2 linked regions of the Homo sapiens genome follow. The protein of the gene in region 1 purifies or fractionates together with the protein of each later gene. This does not show direct contact. Each region holds a gene or a part of one and is shown on either strand. Other genes may lie near its edges.

The links. Proteins that work in one complex are often made in the same cells at the same time.
Region 2: the proteins of DSC2 (region 1) and SPIRE1 fractionate together in Homo sapiens (co-fractionation; one large-scale study listed by BioGRID). This does not show direct contact.

The regions. Positions count from the first base shown.
Region 1 is NC_000018.10:31,099,101-31,104,274, forward strand, and holds the start of DSC2 (desmocollin-2 isoform Dsc2a preproprotein), read right to left. Parts: upstream 3,322-5,174; 5' UTR 2,872-3,321; coding exon 2,803-2,871; intron 2,624-2,802; exon of another isoform or gene 2,488-2,623; intron 2,161-2,487; exon of another isoform or gene 2,121-2,160; intron 1-2,120. UniProt on the Homo sapiens protein: A component of desmosome cell-cell junctions which are required for positive regulation of cellular adhesion.
Region 2 is NC_000018.10:12,655,308-12,659,297, reverse strand, and holds the start of SPIRE1 (protein spire homolog 1), read left to right. Parts: upstream 1-1,190; 5' UTR 1,191-1,431; coding exon 1,432-1,768; intron 1,769-2,565; exon of another isoform or gene 2,566-2,647; intron 2,648-3,990.

The DNA of each region.
Region 1 (5,174 bases):
CAGTAGAGTGATACAAAGGACTATTGTTCAATGAAGACATCTGAACTAGTAATATTAATTTAGTATATGTTGGCAACTGTGTGATATTTTAAGCTATAAAAGTGGATAAAATGCCCTAGGGAAAGAGTGTAGATTCCAAAGGACAAGACCTAGAACAGAAAACCAAGAGACACCAGCATTTAAGAGTGCAGGAAAAAGTAGTCAAACTCATAGAAGCAGAAAATAGAATGGTGGTTGCCAGGTGACGGAGGTTAGGGGAAACAGGGATTTGCTGTTTAATGGATATAAAAGTTTGGTTATGGAAACTGAAAGTTCTAGAGATCTGCTATATGACATTGTGCTTATAATTAACAATACGATACACTTAGAAATGTGTTAGGAGGGTAGATCTCATGTTATGTCATTTTTACCAAACCAAAAAAAGACAACAGAAAAAGAAGAAAAAGACAAGACGCTAGGTAGGGAGTCAGACCCTGAGTGGTCAGAAAGATTAAAAAAAAAGGCGGGGGGGAGTGAATGTCAAGAATAAGGGCAAAAGCTACAAGGTGGAACCATATAAAGAATGAGTCATTTGGATTTAGCACAGGAGAGCCAGTGATCTTAGAAGGTTTATTAGTGGTTAGCAGAAGACAGAGTTCAAGTGGCTAAGCCAGGTGTGGTCTGAAGAAACATTAAGAAGTGAGGAAAAGCTGATTTGTGGAATGGTGAAGGATTACTTGGGTATATGGGAAGGAAGGAAGGTAAAGGATCCTACCCTCCTACCAAAGATATTTCTCCCCCCTTTTTGAGACAGGATTTCGCTCTGTCACCAAGGCTGGGATGCAGTGGCATGACCAGGGCTCACTGCAGCCTGGACCTCCCAAGCTCAAGCAATCCTCCCACCTTAGCCTCTCTCCAGTGACTTGGACCACAGGCGCGCACCCCATGCCCAGCTACAATCATTCTTACTTAATAATTTCTTACACTTAGTATTTACGCATTTCTCACACTTGAGACTCACAACCACAACAGCCACGTGAGGTTGGCAGGGCTTTGCACAGATGTGCACAGAGCAAAAACCAGCAGAATGAGAGTGTAGGCAGGGCCAGCATACTTCCTACCCCACTCCCCGCCTATCAAACTCCGAAGCTAAGGAAGAACAAGGAATGGAAATTCAATTTCAGTGTATTCAGTGATACCCCACCTCCTCCTAAACAGAATCTGAGATAACACACAGAAAGCTCTCTCTGCAGGTATATGCAGAGCAATGCCACGCATTGCCAGCGTCTGTGCATGCCTTTTCCTTTAAAGAATGGCCGGTGGTTTTAAAAGAAATTGCAATTTTATTAGGAGTCTAATGAAAATTTATTTCTTACTCATCAACATATGTTCTGACCGTTATTTATTCCATTCTTGGTTTCCTCATCTGTAAAATGTTAACTGCTGTGTACTTGGCCCTTTCTATGTTATTAATATGCCCTGAGAATTCAGTTAAGGGTTTGAAGTCCATTGAGCTCCTCGAGAAAGACATTCTAATAACAGTAACAATTACCAATTCATGATTGTAAAATGTGGAACTCTACTGCGAAGTGAGAGCGGAAGAGAAGGGGAAATTATACGAATATTTCAGCCCCCAGTTCACTTCTCCCAGAAGGAATTAGCCTTCCGGGTTCCTCCCTTTGTCCTTCAAGATTGATTGGCGCCCAACGCCTTCTGCTTAAGACAAGGAGCACTTTTCCACACCTGTCGATTTTTTTCCTCTTCCAGGGAGCCAGGAAAAGTCCAATCGGACTTTTTATATCCCCAATTCCCCAGACGCTGCTCCCGGCATTGGCTTTTTGCGTCTTCAGGCTCCCCAACGAGATCCCATCGGTCAAGCCTGGGAAAGGGGCTGTCCCGCCCCAAATAAGGCCAACCACTTAGGCTCCCAGCTCTGGGAAGGGGTAGGGTCATTGCTGTAGTGCTCTTTAAAGAAAGAAAGAACCTGGGGCAAGGGGCGGTGGCGCGGGGGGCGGGTGGTGAGCAGAAAAATCGAGTCGCCTCTGGGGACAAGAAATCAGAAAGACCCTTCCTTCCTCCGAAGATTTAGGGAACTGAAGCCTCGCACGTTAAGAAACCACTGAAACTGTACAAATGCTCACCTAGGGCTCGCCGGTCGACAGTCCTCAGGAGCAAAGGGTCAAGATCCCCTCCCCCACCCGCCACTTCCCCCCGCCCTTCTCTCAGAGTAAACAATTCCCAGAAAGGCGAGCAGTTCCCTTTTTCACCCAAGGACACTCGCTCTCCGTCCCGGCCGCCCAGCGGTTCCCCTTTCCGTGGCCTGGGCAGGCGCTGAGGCACAGGGAGCCGCACGTTCCCGAGGCACAGGGAGCCGCACGTTCCCGAGGCACAGGGAGCCGCACGTTCCCGGGGAAGGTGCCAGAGGCCAGCTGGACGGCCCCGGCGCACTCCCGCCCCGGCGCACTCCCGCCCCGGCGCACTCCGACCCCGGCGCACTCCCGCCCCGGCGCACCCTGCTCCCCGGCGCGTACCCAGGGGCCACGATTTTGGCTGGGCGAAAGCGGCCCGCTCCCGCCTCTCCTTGAGTGCGCTGATTACATCTACCGGAGACACCTTCCCTTCCCTTGGGGATCCCAACTCTCAGGTCGCGATCCTCTTCCTATCTGCCCTCCCCCACCCCCGCCAACTCCATTTTCTAGCCACCCAGAGGCCCCTTCACCCCAGCTTTTCCCGCCACCCCCACCTATCCCCGTTCCCCTAGTTTTCCTCTGCACCCTAGGCGATCGCCCCCTTCCCCGGAGCGGTGGCCGCGGCTACACTCACCGCGAGGGTCAGCAGGAGCAGCCGGCAGAGGGCTCCGTTCCAGGAGCCGGAGGGGCGGGCTGCCTCCATGGAGAGGGCTCGGGGCAGGTCGCGGGCCGAGCGTCGGGCCGGGGTAGGAGGGCTCCGCGGGGCGAGGGCCGCGGCCGGAGCGCAGTCTGGGCCCGCTGCTCAGGAGGAGCGCGAGGCGGAGGAGGTGGGGCGCGCGGAGAGGTGCTTTTCTTAGCTTCTCTGAAGCGCCTGCCTCTCATCCAAGGGGCTTTTCCTTTGGCGGAGGGAGGGGCTCCAGACGCGTCCAAAAGACACCGATCGGCCCCTCCTTGTTGTCTATTTAAGACTTAAGACTTCATTTCTCTAAGAAAGCCACGGGTGGGAACTCCCTCTCGCCGCCACCCTTTTACCTGCGCAAGGTGTTTCTCACCAGCGGACGCCACCTATAAGGCCCATCTCCCCCACCACGCCCCGGTGTCCGCTCCGCCAGGCGAGATTAACAGCCGGCCCTGCCCAGCAGAAGCCCTGACTGCACAAAGACTCACTCCTGAGTGCGCGGTCGGCCCCGGCTCCGCCCTGCCCGCTGCCCTCGGCGACGGCCGTGGTCCCTGCCCTGGGGTCAATTACAGAGCGAGGTCTGAGCCGCAGAGGCTGGGTTTTAGGTCACAGCTGCCTGAGGCCCACCTGACAGAAAGTTGACTCCAGGGAGACTGTTACACACTCTACTGGAGTGAATTTCCTACACACACCCACAAGCAGTTCAGACATCATAGTCATCTGAGGCACCATTCTTTGGGGTCTTGTGTTTTTAGGAATTTACTGGCATGACAATGATACAAGACAATCGCCATAATTTAGAGACAAAAATACATATATACATACATACGTACGTAAAGTTAGGGAATCAAGGCGACTGCAAAATAATAAAATCGAGGGTGAGTTACTATAAGAAATGCATCCATTGAGGTCCTAGTCGTGGGCTACATGTGGTTACTGATTTTCTCCAAGAACATCCCTGGTCACAAATAGAGTTATAACTTATTTCCTATACCGGACTCCTGAACATCCAGTGGAGAGTTCTCACCTTCTTTACTACCATCAAAACCAGAGTTCATGGTGAGAAATGAATAAGAATGGGATAATTTACATTTTTATTTGAAGTGCACTTAAACTAAATGAATTATTGCAGCACACAATCTGGAAGATTAAGATATAAATGCTGTTTCTTTTAGCTCTTCAGAAAGCAATGACAAGGCATCTGACTCATCCTCCTGCACCTCTTTTCAATTACTGACTTAAACCAGGTAAGCCTGACCACAAAAGAGAAACTTGTCTGCTCCCTTTTATTTGGTTTAAGTTTCCTCAGGGATGTCCTGAGAATCCTATGTGAAAAGCCAACCCTGACACTCACACCATTTCGATTCTTGAAAATGTTCACCATCTTAACACCATTGTATGCCGAGCCAGAATTACTGCAATACTGAGTGTATATTTAAATTAAAAATTAATGTCAAACAGCGCATGCCTTACATTCTCTGTGTCTGTGCTATGCTCATGCCCTATTTTATTAACGAATGCCACTAATGAGCTGTTCTGTCTCCATATCCATAAAATTATCATTGACCCTTTGCTAGTAAAATAAGCCTGAGTCATCAGCATGAGACTATAATTGACATCCTTCCGTTTCCATATTTTTTAACACTCATAGTTTTCCATCAATGATACCATAAGCACACCTCATCCTATTAAAGATGACATCATGGTCTCTAGCATGAAGCTTTTCAGAGGACAAAAAGAAAGCTATAAGCGTTTCAGGTTCTGGAGATCTACTCAGACTATCATCACAGGCTTTGACTATAGGACATTTCCAAACTCTTGCCTACTCTTTACCCTCTGATGCCTTAAGGGCAGCTCATGTTTTTCCTCATTCCAGGAAAGGGCGGAAGAGCAATTTGACTAGAATTCATCTTAGATATTTATTTTCCTCTTTCACATTAATTGATAGAGGCTATTAAAATGGTGATTTGTTTGTTTTATTCCAAAAAAAACTTTCAACAAAAGAATGGAATATAAAGTACTTTCTCTGAGCAAGTACCCAATTTATTTAATGTATTTAGGTTAGGCTATATGGTCACTGAAATAGATCCCTCTAAAACATAGGTTTGAAACAAAGGGCATATATTTAAAAAAAAAATGGAATGTGAGTAGATGTGATCTTTTTTTAAAAGAATGACTTTTGCTTATGAATATGATTCTGCTGCATGAACTAGTTTCCCAATAAAAATATACTTTTTATAGTAAAAAGTACACCAGACCGAAAGTAAGAAGCAACTTCTTTTGTGTTGCTTAAGTAATCTCTCAGGTCTCAACACTCCCATTTGTCC
Region 2 (3,990 bases), about 18 Mb from region 1:
TAATAGACTGTTGTTATTTAAATAGACTGTTGTAGTTTCTACCGCAAGATGCAATTGTTGAGAGCGTGATTTCTAACATTTTACATAAAACTGCCGTAAAAGGTTTACTGGAACTTAATATACATTGCCTATTTGGTTGATGCTTTCAACACTCTGTAGGGCTTTCACACAGGACTAGCCTCAGTGGAATTTTATCGATTAAATTAATCTACCAATGGGTGATTAAGAATTATCTGTTTTATTGCATATTTAATAGGTTGGGGGGGCGGAATTCTTTCTTTCTACGGCTAATTGCCCTCAGTTCAATTTTACCACTGTGATATTCATTCCACATGCTCTGATGAGTGTGGTACTTGAGACATTACCTTAGTGAGGGAAGGGACCAATGTTACAAATGAATCCGGAAGGACGCTAAAACTAACACCTGCAAATTATGTACATGTTTATATTCCAGGCGCTGGTTTAGCTTTTGGGAGAAGTCAGTGAGGAAAACCCGTAAAGATCCCCGTCTTTACGGTGCTTACCCTGAAGATGGGAGTGGAGAGGGAGGTATTCAACCAGCAAGAAATCGGAAAACGCGCAGAGCGGCCGCGGGGTCACGGGAAACTGCCGGAGGCTTTCAGGGCCCAGGGCCCGGCGGGGAGGCTTCAGCGGGCCTGCATTTTCTTAGGCATCCGCTCCAGGCGGGTTCAAGTTTTCAACCAGACCTTCGGCGATCCAGCGCCTAGGGAACGTCAATGCGGGTGACTTCTCCCGCTGTGCAGGGCGGTGACCCGGGTTGGCGCGCCCAGTTCCCCGCCAGAGTCGGCCGGGGACTTCCCTGATAAATGCGACACCCTCTTGCCCCTGCGCCCCCCGACCGCGCGCCCGGCCCCGCGTGTCCCCCACGCCCCACAACCCTGCACGCCCTACCCGGCCGCGCATCCCCTCCGGACCGTGCGTCGCCGCCCTCACCATTGCGCCCCCAGCTGTGTGTCCCTTGCGACCGGGCCCCCCGACCGGGCGTCACCGCCTGCGACTCTGAGAGCCCTGCGGGCTAGAGACCGTGCGGCCATCTCGCCTCGAGGCGAGGCCCTCCTGCCTGGTCCTCACCTCCAGAGCGTGCATCCCCCGGCCCGTGCGGCCCCCTAAGGGGCGGGCGCTGGGCGGCGCTGGACGGCGCGAGGCGGGGCGGGGCGGGGCGGGGCGCCGGACGCCATCGCGTCGCTACCGGCCGGCGGCTGTCTGACCGGGACTGCAGCCGTGTCCTCGCCGCCCTCCTCTTGCCCACGCCTCCCGGGCACTCGCCTGGTCCCGGCGGCGGCGCGCGCGGCCGCGTTGGGCGGCGGCGGTTCCGGGGATGGTGAGGCGGCGGCGCGCGACGACGATGCTCCGGAGCTGAGGAGACGCCGGCACACGGCGCGACTGCCGAGCGCAGCGCCCACCCGCGGGATGGCTCAGGCGGCTGGCCCGGCGGGCGGCGGGGAGCCGCGGACTGAGGCAGTGGGCGGCGAGGGGCCGCGGGAGCCCGGGGCAGCCGGCGGCGCGGCCGGGGGCTCCCGGGACGCGCTGAGCCTGGAGGAGATCCTGCGGCTGTACAACCAGCCCATCAACGAGGAGCAGGCGTGGGCCGTGTGCTACCAGTGCTGCGGTTCCCTGCGCGCCGCCGCCCGCCGCCGCCAGCCCCGCCACCGTGTGCGCTCGGCCGCGCAGATCCGCGTCTGGAGGGACGGCGCCGTCACCCTGGCGCCCGCGGCCGACGACGCGGGAGAGCCGCCCCCAGTTGCGGGTGAGGCCGCCGGGCCCCTTTCCCTCGTAGTTCTTGGAACACCCGCGGCTGGGCCGCCTTACCCTCAGCGTCCCCGGCCCTTCCGCCCCCGCCGTCCCCCCCCATTTTGCCACGGGAGACCCCCGGGAGGATCCGGCGGGGACCCGCAGGGGAGGACGGCGTCAGGCCGTGGCTGGCCGGGGCCCCTCGGAGGTCAGAGCCTCGTGGCGGGCGACGGCGCAAATCCGCTGTGCGGAGGACGTTTGGGTGGGCCTGGGCCTGCGGGCCGCGGGGCGCTCGTCATTGTGCTGCCCGCGGGACAGCTGCCCGCGGCGCGTTTGGGAGCGGTGGGCTGGGCCCTGCTCCGGGCCAGCGGCCTGTGCGCCTCACGCCGTGGCTGCTGACACACGGCCGGGTTCACGGGGTGGGGAGGGCATCGCAGGCTTCACGCGGGGGCTCCGCACGGATCCTCAGTGCCGCTGTCGGAAACACCGCACTCCTCACGGGAAACTAGCAGTATTCCACATTAGACAGCCTTTCCTCGGTTCGGAAATGTAAAGATGATTCTGAACCGTGAGAATTCTGCTCTTTGGGGAGAAATGGAAAAATAGACTAAATAGTGATTTTTGGCTCCTGGACGTTAGAAAATACTGATTGCATTCCTGTATGTGAAAATTTGTTGTGATGAAAAACAGGCTTGTAAAGTGAAAAGTTGACAGGATGTCGGGATACAAAGAGAAAATGGGCCTTAGTTACGTCATTGTCTAATGTAAAATTTTCAGGATTATGACCTAAACAGTAATTTATAGCCAGGGTTTACTCAGATGCTCATTGAAGAGGAGGAGGAGGTTGAGAAAAGGTTTCTCCCATCAGTTTTTATCTAATTCATTCTTTTGAGAGGCAAGTCTATTAAAAACATAGAAAAACAATCTACCCTCACTTTTAGAAAGTTGATGGAAATGTCAAAATGCTTAAGGTGAAAGATGTAATTTCGAATTAGTAAAATGACATTTAATGAAAACCCTTGTCTAACTTGATTAAAACAATATTCAAGGTTATAGTTATTCTTTCAGTTCCACCAGAACGTTTTTATCTTTTATTTTTTAGTGTCAGGTAAACACATTTTTATTTACATGCTTTTATCTTTTATTTTTTAGCGTCAGGTAAACGATTTTTTATTTAAAGCCATCTTTTTAATTGTTCTTTTGAAACTATTTCAAATAGTATTTTTGTTTCTTTGATGGGCTTATTGCTTTTAAACTTGGACTTAATCTTAGTGGGAAATACTTGCAATTATAATTTATAGTGTATTAAATGGTACAAAAGATACATTTATAAAATACAGCAATGTCTGCCAGGTGCGGTGGCTCAAGCCTGTAATCCCAGCACTTTGGGATGCCGAGGCAGGTGGATCACCTGAGGTCAGGAGTTCGAGACCAGCCTGGCCAACATGGTGAAACCCCGTCTCTATTAAAAATACAAAAATTAGCCGGGCGTGGTGTTGTGCCGCTGGAATACCAGCTACTCGGGAGGCTGAGGTGGGAGAATTGCTTGAACCTGGGAGGTGGAGGCTGTAGTGAGCTGAGATCGCGCCACTGCACTCCAGCCTGGGTGACAGAGCGAGACGCCGTCTCAAAAAAAAATACAGCAATATCGTGCCTTGGGATTTAGCTATTTCCAGAGGAAAAATGGTTGTGTGCAGCCTGCTTTTAGAAGCAGCGTTGGTAGTGGTGATTTCCGGAGAGAACAAGCCCCCAGTTTACATTGTCTTGTCACTTAAATTTAATCCCAAAATCGTGTAGTTTTGTTGTCAAAGATTGATAGATTCTCGTGGATGGGTTTTTTCTTTTTTTTTGGTCTGAATCTTATGTTGAATTGGATTATTTTTTACATCACTAGTGTGAGTGATAACATGTTGATCTCAGTGTAATAAACTGCCTTTATGGAGAAAATAGTGAGTGGAGTTGTTCTCCACAATTCGCAATAGGTTTATAATTCTCTTTCTCAGTTCTGCTCATGACCTGCGCTACCAGTTATGGAGGAGGCCTAATCAAAGTTGTTGATAGAGACTTGAGCATTTTCTGTTGCCTAAAATTATTTAAGAAGTTCATACTAAAACATTAGTTTATTTCCTCATTGGCTTTAAGAATAGTTGCGTGGCTCAGGAAGATACAGTCTTCTGAAGATTTTATCTTGATTCTTACACTTGATGAATAATTTGGTGGTGTGCACACTTAAAAATT